Linked DNA regions of Homo sapiens. The protein of the gene in region 4 interacts with the protein of the main gene of each other region in a pairwise test. Each region holds a gene or a part of one and is shown on either strand. Other genes may lie near its edges. The genes, in order: MYOZ2, MYOT, MYPN and PDLIM3.

Region 1 (3,923 bases), about 66 Mb from region 4:
TTGTATTTTTTTAGTAGAGACGGGGTTTCACCATGTTGGCCAGGCTGGTTTCGAACTGCTGACCTCAGGTGATCTGCTTGCCTCGGCCTCCCAAAGTGCTGGGATTATAGGCATGAGCCATTGTGCCCAGCCTATGACCACATTTTTAAAGTGGCTTTATTCTTATTGCCAGTACTTTTTATATTATGCTACTTGAGTTATTTATCCAAAAGTTATCTGGAATATGTCTTCAAGTAATTCTCTTAGGAAGGGAACACCAATATAAGTCCATGCATATCTATAATACATATATATTTTTTACATTGGTACATGAATAATTACCTGGTCACAGTCTTTTCTCCACAACACCTATTCAATACTCTTTTTTGGTATGTAATGTTTTGGAAAAGATTATGGACAGCCTCATATTCATTCCTTTTATACATTCCTTCTGGCTTCCCTCCCTGTATGGCTCATTATATTAAAAACATTAAAATTCTGACAAGGAATGTCCAGGTAGCATCTTTTTATTTTTTCTTGTTAACTTTGTCTAGTACTTGGTAACTCCTTTTCCTCTATAATCTCTTCTTCCTTCAACTCAGGAGAGTTGTTTTCCATATCTTTGGTTCATGATTGTGATCATAATGCTCTGTTTTCTTCCTCTGGAAGCTTGAATATCCTCATCTGGACTCTAGTTTATTTTACTTTTCATCATATTGTCTGCTCCCTGTGCATTCTGGGAGAGTTATTCTACATAATTTAGTATGCCTTTCTTATGAAAAATAACATAACATTTTATTGTCTTCTCAGTAGATTACAAGTTCTTTGAGAGTAAAAACCATGACTTTCATTTCCACTTACTTGCTTCCAGCATATTCCTGGAAAATAGTGGCTACTCAAAATAGCCATTTGGTTTCCTTAGATGGATAAAATATATGTGATGGAGGCATATCAACTTACTACAAAAACTATGGCATAGTACTGAAGAGGTGGAATTTGGAGGCTATCTTGAGGAGTATATATGTATTAAACATTCTGCAGGCAAGAGCCCAGAATTTAATACATACAGAAAAGAATGAACAACTATAAGTTACATACATGAAAAAAAGAACATAAATTTAGCAAATTTGGAATCTGATTTAATTTATATAAACTGAATTTTAGGAATGTATTATTATAAAACTGTAAATATTGCAGAGTTCAAACAGTACACTGAAGAACAGAGTATCTAGTAAATATTATAAAACACGACTTTATTGTTTTAGAAGTTTGATAGTAAATTTTCAAATCAACATTATAAAATTTCAAATTTTAGGCTTCTGACCTAACCTAATACAGTATTCAGAAGCTTTTGGGATTATTTTCTCCACTGTGCATAATAAAAACTTCTTAAAAGAGGAAAGTGTCAAATTATATTGCAAGTTAAAAGCAACAGAAAACATTTCTCATGCCACTGAAATAATTTTGAAACAAAATGTGACACAGTTCACCTGCAGTTCTCACTGGCTATGGTAACTATTGTCAGCAACAAACATATTTAGCTTCTAGCAAATTGGCTGGATAAAGGATGTAATGCCTGATGCTTGAAGTATAGTTGGCTTTACTCTACTTCCAGCAGTCTGATTGCTTCTTACACAGGCCTTTCTAGTGAATTAAGTCTCCTTCTGCATCCTCAACCTGGATCATGGTACCTCAGGAAGGACAGAGTAGTTATCAGTCACAAAAAGGCAACTTCTAATAAGGAAGTTGCATGACACTGTAATACAATGGTCCCCAACCTTTCTGGCACCAGGGACCAGTTTCGTGGAAGACAATGTTTCCAAGAATGGGGGAAGGGGTGTAGGGGTGGCAGGGTGGGGGGAGATGGTTTCGGGATGAAACTATTCCACTTCAGATCATCAGGCATTAGTTAGATTCTCGTAAGGAGCCTGCAACCTTGATCCCTCACATGCAAAGTTCACAAGAGGGTTTGCACTCCTATGAGAATCTAATGCCCCTGATGACCTGACAGGAGGTGGAGCTCAGGTGGAAATGCTCACTCACCCTCCGCTCACCTTCTGCTGTGTGACCTGGTTCCTAACAGGCCATAGATGGTTGGTCTGCAGCCTGAGGGTTGGGGACCCTTGCTGTAACAGATGCAATGGGAATATACAAATGAAATTGAATATGACTTTCCTTTTTACAGACTAAAATCTGTTTGGGGAGGGAAAAATTTAATTGAAACGAAAGTAATAGAATCAAATTTGTAGCAGACTATACATATTTATGTTTTAATTAATTCTTTAATAAAAAAACACACAGAAATTAAGGTAGTCAAGAAAGATAGCAGAGTGATTGAACTATAAAGAAAATAAGATCTCTTCCAGGTTTTAAATAATCACAATATTAGAGAATCTATATAGTCTTGCCAGGTCCTATGGTACAATGCATTATATAAGTATATTGTAACGAATTACAAAGATACATCAGAGAGAATTCCAATCTTCTTAGAGTACAGTCTGGTAAGAAAAAAGGCAGACATACAAATGGATATAATGAAAGATATAAAATAGGATCGCAGGGGAGGTGAAAATAGAAGTCATGGAAACTTCGGAGTGGAAAGCTTACTTCTGGCTGTGGGAAATTGGGAAAGCTTCAAGAAGAAAGTTAAGTATGAATTAGGGCTTAAAGGGGATTTAGAAACGCAGTTGTAAATATCAGAGTACTCCAAGCAGAGAGAGAAAAAAAAAAGAGTATGATTAGAGGCAGTGAGGTAGGAGAGCATAAATGCAAAGAGCAAGCAGTTAAAGGATGCGTGAAAGTGAATAGGGCAAAACCTGCATGATTGACCTCTCCACTGGGATGTCTAATCGTGTTTTCCACCCACACACCAACTCTGTTCTTTTCTGTCTTCCACCAGCCAGTTGCTAAAACTCTAAAGGTAGGAGTTTTCATTGATTTTTCTATTTTCTTCATGGTTTTAATCCAATTTATCAGCAAATCCTGTTGACTCTACCTGTAAAGCACATCCTGACCCACCCACTTTTTTCCATCTTTACATAAAACACCTGAAATACAAGTCATCATTTCTTGCTTGAGTTACTGCAATAGCTTCCCTCCTTCCACTGTTGTCTTTTTTTTTTTTTTTCCGAGACTGAGTTTCCCTCTTATTGTCCAGGCTGGAGTACAATGGCACGATCTCGGCTCACTGAAACCTCCACCTCCTGGGTTCAAGGGATTCTCCTGCCTCAGCCTCCTGAGTAGCTGGGATTACAGGCATGCGCCACCATGCCCTGCTAATTTTTTGTATTTTTAGTAGAGATGGGTTTCTCCATGTTGGTCAGGCTGGTCTCGAACTCCCGACCTCAGGTGATCCATCCACCTTCTCCTCCCAAAGTGCTGGGATTACAGGTGCGAACCACTGGCACTGTTGTCTTCTTATAATCTGTTCACACAGCAATAGCAGCCAGAATGACCCTTATAAAATGTAATTAGGTTATATAATCTCCTGCTTACCATCCTACAATGGTTGCCCTTCACATTTAGAAGGAAATCCATATTCCTTATTTAGAAAAAGTCCCACACAAGTTTACCTCTCTGTCCCCTGTTCCCTCTGCCCCACCCTCACCTGCTAGCCTAGGAACATAAGCCTTCTTTGTTTCCTTGAACACGCCAACATTATTTCTGCCTTAGGGTTCTTGGCATTAGCTATCCTGTCTACTGGAAGTGCTGATGTACTTTAGCCATACTGTACATGTCTAACTTCTGACCTTCAGATGGCTGTTTAAATGTCGCCTCTTCAGAGAAGTCTTCCCTGGTGATTCTATCTGAAATAACTTTTTAGTAATTCAGTTATTCAATATTATAACACCCTATTTTAACTTTATGCATAGCTGCTATCACCATCAGATATTTTTGTATATGTTTATGTTTAGGGTCTCTTTCACTAGAATGTAAGAACTAAG
Region 2 (3,923 bases), on a different chromosome or scaffold from region 4:
CATAAAGTTAAACCCTTCTTGGAAAGGATACATTTGTTAATCTTAGAACAATTACTCATGAGGGGTTTTTTTTGGTTTTCAGAAAGCATTTTTTGAAAACAGGAATATAACAAAAGGAATTGGATGTTTCATTAGTACCACAAGTATATTTTAAAACATTGAAATGTTAAACAGCTTATGAGAAAGGTTATAATTACTTTCATTTATAATCTTAATTTCTGTCCTATTGGAGGTTCACAACCCATATATTCCCTGTCCGTGTAGACACCATAGAGAGTCCTAGGTCTAACTGACCCATAAATGTCCTGATAAAAAATAATACCATTAGACTTCTTGTGTTTTGATTTTGTGACGTTGTGTATCCAGGTATTAGAACTACCAGAAAATGGGGTAAAATGTGGTAAAATTATGTATATATGTTTATCATGGCCTCTTTATGTATCCAGTGGTGGATGGAACTGACCGACTTTTATTTCAGATGCTATTTATAAGCATTTAGAAAAGCAGACATTTAAAAATCGCACAGAATAAAAATACTCCACTTAGAGCATTTTAACTTACCTGCGAGTCTTGTGCACCACTGTCATCCTGAGCTTGAAACACAGCAGCTGCATTCTGTGGTCCTAGCAATCTGCGAGCCATCTTCTCTTCATATGTTAGACGCTTTAGAGAATTTATTGAGACAGTAATTAGATTTAATAAAAGATGTTTGTACAGGTTTACCTTAAAACCACTACTATAGGTCAGAACTTCAAAGAAGCATAGTTCTATCTATTGAATGATAGATTCTATTTTTTTTTTTTTTTTTTTTTTTTGAGACGGAGTCTTACTCCGTCGCCCAGGCTGGAGTGCAGTGGCACAATCTCGGCTCACTGCAACCTCCGCCTCCTGGGTTCACGCCATTCTCCTGCCTCAGCCTCCTGAGTAGCTGGGACTACAGGCGCCTGCCACAATGCCCAGCTAATTTTTTGTATTTTTAGTAGAGACGGGGTTTCACTGTGTCAGCCAGGATGGTCTTGATCTCCTGACCTTGTGATCCACCCGCCTCGGCCTCCCCAAGTGCTGGGATTATAGGCGTGAGCCACTGCGCTCGGCTGATTCTATTTTTTTTTTTTTAAAGTCTTTTCTTCCATTCAAAGCATTTTCCTTCTATTCTAGTACCATTTCCCTCACTTGCAGTAAAGGTTCACTTAGGCTTTCTTTTTGCTCCTATGACAGGCAAGCATAATCACTCTTAAATAAGGATCTCCTAAGTAAAGGGAAATTCAACCCTTTCCTCCGTTGTTCTGCATGTTCCAGTCAGCTTTGTTTTTGAATATAATACTTCATGTGCTCACATTCAGAAGTAATTTTTATTTAATTTTAATTAATTAATTTTTGAGACAGAGTCTCACTCTGTCGCCCAGGCTGGAGTGCAGTGGCACGATCTTGGCTCATGGCGACCTACGCCTCCTGGGTTCAAGCAATTCTCCTTTCTCAGCCTCCTAAGTAGCTGGAACTACAGGTGCATGCCACCACACCTGGCTAATTTTTTATTTTTAGTAGAGATGGAGTTTCACCATATTGGTCTGGCTGTTCTCGAACTCCTAACCTTGGTGATCCACCTGCCTTGGCCTCCCAAAGTGCTGGGATTACAGACGTGAGCCACTGCACCCAGCCAGAAGTAACTTTTATTAAATGAGCACTGAATATTTGATTGTACTAACTTCTGATTGAGAGCAGTCCAACTGATAGGCTAAATGTATTTGTATTAAAGGCATATAGTACTGTTTAAAGATAAGTTACTAATATAATATACACAATAAGGACTACATGATAAGAATTATAGCAATAATTACCTGTCAGTGTTATACATCAAAGTACACTAAGTTGACTTGACAGTAATTCCTAATAGCTATTTGGGCATCAGACATATTTTATGAGAGGGTAATATTTAATAACAGAAAAATTTCATTAAACCATTCAGATACATTTTTCATTTGCTTCATTCTTTTACTACTGTAAACCAAGAGGTGATTTCATGCAGAGAGAAATGGAATAGGGCCCAAATATTCCTTCTTTTTAGATAATCTTATTCCTTGTTGATATATGGACCTAGATCTGTGAGCTAGAACTTCCTTATTAAAATTAGATTTTATAGTTTAATTGGCCTTTTGTACAAAATAGACATCTTGCCCACTTGATTTCCATTATGAAGAAGGGTGTCCTTGCATTTCAGCTTTCTTTCCAAATCTTGAATCAAAGCTTCTTTTGATCCTTGTATTTCATGATCAGGAGTTCTTGGTATGGGCTTAGCATTTGCAGTTTGGGATGGCTTTGCATTTATAGGTTGGCCAGCTGAGGACTGTTGATAGCTTTAAAAAGGAAAAAGAAAAGATTTTTAAAAAGAAGGTCTTGGCCTCATTTTGCAAATTACCTTTAGATATGTTGAGTTTACCACTTAGTACTACTAGTATTATTAAAAACAAATTGCCCTAATAACAGTCAAGAAATATTTTATAAGAATGGTTACTATCTTTTTTTTTTCCTTTTGGCAAATGGAAATTAAGTGTCAGGAGGAAGAATTTAGATTAGACATAAGGAGGATGTCCTTCCTTGAAGATATTCCCTAAGGAATGTGAGAGTAAGTCTAGTTAGTGGCAGCTTGAGAGCTCTTCCAATCTTATGAGTAATTTCTTTAATAAAATTTTTTTTTAGATTCTGGGAGTACATGTGCATGTTTGTTACATGGGTATATTGTATGATGCTGGGGTTTGGCCTTCTAATGATTCTGTCACCCAAGAGGTGAACATAGTACCTGATAGTTAGTTTTTGAACCCTTTTCCACCTCTTTCCCTGCTTTCGGGATCTCCAGTGTTTATTGTTTTCATCTTTGTGTTCATATGTACCCAATGTTTAGCTCCCACTTATAAATGAGAACATGCTCTATTTTATTTTCTGTTTCTGTGTTAGTTTGCTTAGGATAGTGGCCTCAAGCTGCATCCGTGTTGCTGCAAAGGACGTAATTTTGTTCTTTGTTATAGCTACGATGACCGAATTTCTTGTTTGATTTATGGGTAGATATTAAGTGGTGGTATTCTGGAGCTGGTTCATATGGGCTGATTTTTAGCATCTTTTCCCAGCTTCCTATGATTTCATGTTATAGTTTGAAATTGGTTGTGGTGGAAATATTTACACCAGGGAAATCGGTAAATATCACAAATAATGGCTCTTTTGTCCAGTGATTGTTAGACATTTACCAGCACACCACTGGCTTTTAGTGAATAATCTTTTGCTTTGAATGGAGTCTACACAGTCATTGACTTTCCTGTAATTTCCAATTCCTATTAATTTCATATTCTAGAAAATCCAAGTATGGCACTATATAACAGCAAATAACTTCTAAAGTAATGACAGTTTCTTCAATACTACTGAAGTGATTTTTAGAGAAAAAATGGGATGATTTGAGGAAGGAGAAAGAAATGTAAACTGGAAAAAAGCAAATAAAGTCTTTATTTCAAATTTTGATCCTAAATTTTTTCTATGATGTCCTTGCCCCTCCCGTATTTCCCTTGTTGATTCTGATAGAGGATAGGGTGGTATTTAGAGAGTCCTGTATTTTTAGATCTGTTAGGTAGCTTAAATGTATCACAGTGCTTTATTCAGTTTTTACCTAGTTTATCCATTCAGAGCCCTGCAGGGGCTAATCTTTATTTTTAATTTTTATTTATTTTTTTGAGATGGAGTCCCGCTCTGTTGCCCAGGCTGGAGTGCAGTGGCGCGATCTCGGCTCACTGCAACCTCTGCCTCCCGGGTTCAGGTGATTCTCCTGTCTCAGCCTCCCAAGTAGCTGGGATTACAGGCACCCGCCACCATGCTCAGCTAATTTTTGAATTTTTAGTAGAGACGGGGTTTTGCCATGTTGGCCAGGCTGGTCTCAAACT
Region 3 (3,500 bases), on a different chromosome or scaffold from region 4:
TTTCCAGGTGTGACTTATTCTTGCAGATTAATTATCCTTAAATCCTCCCTTTCATCTTGTTACTTCCCTATACATAACCTTAAATGGTTTCCAGTTTGTTTTGAAACCAAGTCTGAACTACTCTGCTTTGCTTTCAAGGTTCTTCGAAGTCATCTGACTCTACTCTCCTTTCCAGTTTGGTCAGTGTCCTCTCTGCTATATAAAAAATATTATTATAATTAGAGCGTCTGTGCCTTTCCATAAACATGCTGAAGTGACCTGGCCTGAAAGGACCCATTCCTTCCACCTACCTCTTCAACCTTATCTCTAATCTTTCTTACCTTTACCCTATGTTCTTGACATAGATGAGTACTTATGGTTCCCTGATAACACTTGCCTCGGGAGCTTTGCACTTGCTTTCCCCTCTACCCTTGGCCTCCTCTACCTCCTGTGTTAACACTTCCTTTATCATGCACTCCAGGCCAAGCAACTCATATACTCTTTTAAGCCACCACTGCCTCCTCTACAGACTCCTGTCATAGCCCTTATTACATAATACTGCAGTGATTGATTTGTTTGCTGTCTGCCTGATTCCTAGCTATTAGATTGTGAGCCACCCTCTCAGAAGAGTTTAGATTTGGTTTCAAAACAAGATTTATGACCTCCACTAGCTCACAATTGTTTTGTACTCCCAGTGAATCACTTTAGTAACTCAATTGATATTTGTTGAATGAGTAAATAAGAAACTTTCTACCTAAATTTTCACTATTCAAAGTTCAAGTAAAATCCTCCTACATCTCTGAAGACTTCTTTGACTTTTCTAGTCCTTCACTCCTTCTCTGACACCTGACACTACTTAAAGTTTGTACTATAAAAATTAGGATTATTTCTTTAACTGTATTGCAAGCTCCTTGAAGGCAGGGATGCATATTTATATTGTGTCTGTCATTGCATTGATCACTGTGCCGAACACACAGTAAAAACTAACTAAATAAATACATATTTGCTTTCTGATTGGAGTTATATAAATTCTGTGCTTAGGAAAATGGCAGCTAATAGTCTACTCGGACAATTCTAATTCTATTCTTAATCTAATTGCAGTCATAAAATTAAGTACTAACTCATTCAGAAAATATTTAGCATATACCTACTAATTTCCTAGCATCCAACCAGTGGTTAGGATACAGGCATGATTGCTGTCAGTAAAGAAATTCTTCCCAGGAAAAATTAGCATTGCTACATGGAAACTGTGTACATTTCTTTCACTTTTAAATTTGAAGATTTGCAAATTTTTAGTTGGCTGATTAAATGGTTTCTGAGTGGCCACCAGATTACTTTGCTTTGTGGGGAATGTCTTCCTAATTGACATTTCTTAGTGGTGCATTGAATTCATTCTTGTATCTGAGATTGTCATGGTTGAAAAATGAGTAGGATGAGACCTGAATGATCTGGTCTAATTTTTGTTTTAATCAATCTATGTCCAGAAACTAATGGATTGGACAGGACTAACCTAAGTTTTGTGTATATCACAACTGGAGTGCTCACCAGCTTACTTAGACTGACCAGATGCTGCTGAGTAGTAGCTGTCATGGGGCTGTAGTGACATCTCACTAGCATTACCAACCAGAGTCCCAGGGAGTATCATCAGGCACGTTCAGAGCAGAAGAGTAGACACCGCCCTGTGTTTTTCAGTTCCAACCCTTTGCTACATCTTAGGCCAACGGTCTCACTTCTGATTTAAATCTAAGTTGAGTTTCTTGTTTTCCTGTTTCTTTATCCACTAGCTCATTCAACATTTCTGAGTGGCTACCATGAGCCCAAAGCTGTGCTCAGTGCTCAAGACACAAAGGTAAAAACAACAGAATCCCTGCCCTCAAGGAGGTCAGCAGGATAACCTAATAGTCAAATGTATCTGCCACTGTAGAAATAATATTTGGCATTGCCTTATGTCGCCTTTGAAAAGCAAAAATCAATATATGAATATGTCTTTGGGCCAGAATCCCTTGAATTAATATGCCTATATATAAACAAAAATGCTATTATTAATACTACTATTGTCCTATAATTGAATATTATGGAATAAAAAGATGATGCCCAGATGCCCTATTTACATACAGAGAATAAATGTTAAATAGTAATGAAATCATATTCTAGTAATAATCAGGTAGTTACAAACACAAAGTAACTCTTGTAGGACTCTAAATACCAGGAATTCTCTACAAAAGTAATCCACTTCAACCACATTTTTCACATGTTATTCCATTATAAAATCAAAAGTAGGACATGTTACCCTAGGGGCTAACGCTGGTTCCAGGTTTTGTGGGACCTGAAGCTCATAAATGTGGAAGGGCTCCTTTAAAAAGTAAAATAAACTTAGAATGCAAAATTAGGTATAGCCTAGTCAAGTGAGGCGTCCTGAAACTTGCACTGCATTTGCCTCACAGAAAAGCTGACCATGGTAGGCAAATAAAAGATGAATAACCTCTCTATCCATCAGTCATAGCTTTCATGAAGCTGACATGGAAAGTGTATAATACATTTAATACATGTATAATGAATCTTTAAATTGACTTTAGCCTCAGCCCAATTCTATAGGTTTTTATGCTATTATTTGGGTTTCTTTAAAGTTTAAAAAAATACTGCAGGTATTCATTGCATAGAGACCTTTTTTAGGCTATAAATTGTAGCCCTGCGCTGTCCAATACTGTAGTCATTAGACACATGCAGTTACTGGGCACTTGAAATGTGGCTCGTGCAACTAAATAACTGAATTTTTAATTATACTTATTTATTTATTTATTTATTTATTTATTTATTTATTTATTGAAGGAGTCTCGCTCTGTCGCCCAGGCTGGAGTGCAGTGGTGCAAGCTCGGCTTACAGCAAGTTCCGCCTCCCGGGTTCACGCCAGTCTCCTGCCTCAGCCTCTCAAGTAGCTGGGACTACAGGCGCCCGCCACCATGCTTGGCTAATTTTTTTTTTTTTTTTGTATTTTTAGTAGAGACCGGGTTTCACCTTTTTAGCCAGGATGGTCTCGATCTCCTGACCTCGTGATCCGCCCGCCTCAGCCTCCCAAAGTGCTGGGATTGCAGGCGTGAGCCACTGCGCCAGGCCTAATTTACTCATTTTGAGATGGAGCCTCCGCTCTGTAGCCCAGGCTGGAGTGCAGTGGTGCGATCTCGGCTCACTACAACCTCTGCCTCCCAAGTTCAAGAAATTCTCTCTGCCTAAGCCACCTGAATAGTTGGCATTACAGATGCCTGTTACCACGCCCGGCTAAATTTTTTTGTATTTTTAGTAGAGATGGGGTTTCGCCCTGTTGGCCAGGCTGGTCTTGAACTCCTGACCTCAAGTGATCTGCCTGCCTCGGCCTCCCAAAGTGCTGGGATTATACGCTGGAGCCACTGCGCCCGGCCAAAATGAAGGTTGTATTCCCTAGGAAAATTTAACATCCAAATTGAAATATGCTGTCAGTGTAGAATTCACGCCGAGTTTCAAATCCCTGGTATAATAAAAATAAT
Region 4 (3,923 bases):
TCAACATTTGAGTTTTGGGGGGAGATAAAAAGTCCATTGCATGCCTCTTACGTGAATTTTAAAGATGATAAATAGTAAGGATTGCTATATTTGGATTGAAAGCAGTTTCAACCTGAATGTAAAAGATGCCTAAATATAGTAAAACTCTATTCCCAAATAGAGACTTCTGGGTGATGAAAAATAAAAAATAATTTTTTAAAACAAAAAAATGTATGATTCACACTGGGAATTATGTAAGATGTTTTAAAAGAGAGTAACAGATACAAGGATATGAAATGTGGTTAGTAAGAAACAAAATCATTCAGCAGGATGAGAAAATAGACCTAACTCAACTGACCAACTAAGAGTTATCTTTAGTTAGATTTACAGTCTTTCTGCCCAATTAAACATTTAAAATGTTACCAGGCTGAAACACAAATGTCAGGCACAAAACTCAAGATACTGCGGGATGTTGGTTTTTAAATAGTGCCATGATTTCTTCCAGATTACACCAGGAAGCAAGGCGGCAGCTGCCAACCTGTGTCCTGGAGATGTCATCCTGGCTATTGACGGCTTTGGGACAGAGTCCATGACTCATGCTGATGCGCAGGACAGGATTAAAGCAGCAGCTCACCAGCTGTGTCTCAAAATTGACAGGTGCTTCTTAACTAATGGTGCTTAAATCTGATCTGTTTTGCAGGAGAACCTGAACCAGAACTATAAATAACTTCATCCTCCCAGCAAGGAGGGCCACAGACCTAGTATTTTGGCTGACTTTTTATATATTAGCTACTTAATTCTTTACTAAAGTCAGTCAATCTAGCAGTTGTTGACAAATCATTTCTAAAAAGGATTCTCTGGAATGTTAGAATAATAAAAGAGGCTAAAAGAATTTGTTCCAGTAATAACCCGGTTAATTAACTATGAAAATAGAACTATTAGCCACATAAACACTGAACAACACAACTAGTTATATCACTGTTCTCAGTGTGGTAGAGAATGGAATGGAATGGAATGGAATGGAGAGATTCCCCTGAAATAATCTCTTGACTTGCCTGACTGTAATTATATTAAAACTGGTTGCTAATATCCTGTCTGCCATTGGCTGTTTTGTACAGAATTCAGCCCAGAAGAATGTTACAGGTGTGAGAGTGCATATGCACGTGGGCATGTGAAATACTGAGATGTTTCTGACCCCACCCCCCAAAAACACTAAGAAATTGAGCCTGATCTCTTGCCATCAGATCCCTGATCCAAAACTGAACCATGATAATAATAATTTGTTATAGTGGTTGTTAGTGTGTGTTTATCCTGTTATGATTGTACTCACAGTTTTCCGTGCTGTGGTACAGAAGGATCAATCAATCCACCAATCTGCCGTTTCCTTGGGGTGAAATAGATTCTTTCACTCTCTATGCATAACCTGTGTTCATGCCGAGCACACAGTCCCTTAGGAGCCACTAGGTCCCAGGCAGATGCATGAGAAGGGTTGGACAAAGCACATTTCCTTGATGCCAGTAACACATCCACCTGGCAGATCACTCACTGTCTTCTGCAGTGGCCTCAGTAGGACTGGAGGGAAGTAGGGAGGTCTAGGGAGCTTGCCTGGTGGTCATCTGCAGAGTGTGCCTGCAGAGTCTCCCTCTCCTGTTTCCCACATGCCTTGCAGGCCTCCTTCCTCCAGAAACTGTGCAGTGTACTCCAGGCAATTTTTATCTAGTCTGCCATACCCAAAAGGACATTAAAAATGTACGACTTCGGCCGGGTGTGGTGGCTCCCGCCTGTAATCCTAGCGCTTTGGGAGGCCGAACTGGGCGGATCACTTGAGGTCCAGAGTTCATGACCAGCCTGGCCAACTGGTGAAACCCCGTCTCTACTAAAAATACAAAAATTAGCCAGGCATGGTGGTGGGCACCTGTAATCCCAGCTACTCGGGAAGCTGAGGGAGGAGAATCGCTTGGACCCAGAAGGAGGAGGTTGCAGTGAGTCAAGATTTTGCCACTGCACTCCAGCCTGGTTGACAGAGGGAGACAACATTAAAAGAAAAAAAAAGGGGGGGGGAAGACTAATTATGTGGGAAAATACAGAATAATCAGCAAAAAAAAAAATTGTTTTTGCATAAGTTAGTGAGGTTTGCTAGTATTTTCACAAACATAATGGGAAACTAAAGTATGCTAAAACTGAAAGTACCATTAGAATTTGAAGTTTACAAATTTTATTTTATTTCCAGGGGAGAAACTCACTTATGGTCTCCACAAGTATCTGAAGATGGGAAAGCCCATCCTTTCAAAATCAACTTAGAATCAGAACCACAGGTATGCGTTTTAGAGCAAATGATACACATTGTATTTCCTTTTAAATCATGGGGATGCCTTCCAAGGGGAGGAAGAGACAAATAGAAAAATTGGAACAAGCCACCTATGAAGCTGTTGTCTGTCATTCCTCTCCGAGATTAATTTATATTATCCGTGTTTTCTTACATCAAGAAAAAGAAGTGTTCCTATGTGAACATCTTGTTGAAAGACAAAATATGCTCCCATCAGAAAGAATTTGGCTAAATCTACAGAGTCCACTTATTATTTTTTCATTTCTTATAATGGACTTCTGTGAAATGACCGTGAGGTAATCTAAGGAGTTTAAGTTGTTAAAACAAAGCAAAGCAAAAATAAGGTCTACCATTTGAAACAGGTGTCTCCAATCTACGGTTACTGTGAATTTCAGTCCTTCGAGGTCTTCACCCAGATCTCATTCTACATTCTTCTTTAATTCTCATTTCTGGGATTCTGTAATTAAATTTACTCTAAGAAAAGAGTGTTGCCTAGTGTGATGATGGTGATATTCTGCCGTTACAGCTGAATTATAAAAGATAAAGGATTTTCTCTGGAGGCAACTGTAATAAACTAAACTAATCATCTGATGCTTATCTATGTCTACTTTCAAAAGGCCCAAAAAACCTGAAATTAAATCAAATCTTGATTGTGATGTACTCATAAATCTAATTAAGAAAAGCATTTTATGACCTCTACATAGAAGCTCTAAAGGTTTAGAGATACAGATACATGAATTTACCATCCCTTTTGAAACACATGTTCCTGCTAAACTGATTAGATATTCCCAGCATGTAGTTGTTCTATATAACTGATGAAAGGGAACTGAAAACGTATTTGTAATTTATGTTTAGCAGTATTTCCCCTTTCAAGAAAATCAACTCCTGAATTTGTCCTTCAAGTTTTCTACTTGTCTCCATAAGCCTCTGATTTCTTTTGTGAAAAGATGTTGAATAACATCAGTACATGTGTCTCCTAGGGCTTCTCAAAAATTAGAATAAAATAATACAAGCAGAGAAGTTGGCACATTGAGTTATTCATAGAAATACTCAAGTAAGTGGTAGCTGTCCTTATTATCAGTACGTTACCCCCACCCCAGGCTGGGATCCGAAAGTCTCCTGGCGTTTCTTGCTGGTGAGATAGTTAGCTGCCTACATGATAGGACATCCTAGAGGCTAGGAATGCCTTCTTCATTGCTATTACGAGGGTCGTGACAAATGGAACAAAGCTTTATTTTCAGTTAAAATATAATCTCTCCTGGAGAAGAAGGATCCTGAGTAATGTAATCTTTAGAGGAAATGAGTTTATTAGATTGTTGTCGTAGAGTTTTGACTAAAGGGAAGGTAGAGTCTGAATCTAAAATCCACTAAAAGCAAAAGTAGGAGAAAATAAGCCCCAAAAGGAGTGAGCAGGACAGAGAATATGTTCATGAAGGCAGGAACCTTGAGGCTGTTGTCTTCCCTCTGAGTCCCTCCAGCTCAATAAATAGCCCACAGCTCAATAAATAGCTGACAAATGGATGAAAGGAACTGGAGGGCCTAAAAATGAGCTGTGCATTTTCTAACATTGCCAGGACCTGTCCTGGGAGCCAGTTCTCAAAATGGTGTTCTGCCATCA

The links.
Region 1: the proteins of PDLIM3 (region 4) and MYOZ2 interact in a two-hybrid assay, tested with the Homo sapiens proteins (one large-scale study listed by BioGRID and IntAct).
Region 2: the proteins of PDLIM3 (region 4) and MYOT interact in a two-hybrid assay, tested with the Homo sapiens proteins (one large-scale study listed by BioGRID and IntAct).
Region 3: the proteins of PDLIM3 (region 4) and MYPN interact in a two-hybrid assay, tested with the Homo sapiens proteins (one large-scale study listed by BioGRID and IntAct).

What each region holds. Positions count from the first base shown.
Region 1 is NC_000004.12:119,180,724-119,184,646, forward strand, and holds part of MYOZ2 (myozenin-2), read left to right. Parts: intron 1-3,923.
Region 2 is NC_000005.10:137,874,260-137,878,182, reverse strand, and holds part of MYOT (myotilin), read right to left. Parts: intron 2,355-3,923; coding exon 2,180-2,354; intron 664-2,179; coding exon 562-663; intron 1-561. UniProt on the Homo sapiens protein: Component of a complex of multiple actin cross-linking proteins. Involved in the control of myofibril assembly and stability at the Z lines in muscle cells.
Region 3 is NC_000010.11:68,122,988-68,126,487, reverse strand, and holds part of MYPN (myopalladin), read right to left. Parts: intron 1-3,500. UniProt on the Homo sapiens protein: Component of the sarcomere that tethers together nebulin (skeletal muscle) and nebulette (cardiac muscle) to alpha-actinin, at the Z lines.
Region 4 is NC_000004.12:185,521,733-185,525,655, reverse strand, and holds part of PDLIM3 (PDZ and LIM domain protein 3), read left to right. Parts: intron 1-484; coding exon 485-636; intron 637-2,209; coding exon 2,210-2,294; intron 2,295-3,923. UniProt on the Homo sapiens protein: May play a role in the organization of actin filament arrays within muscle cells.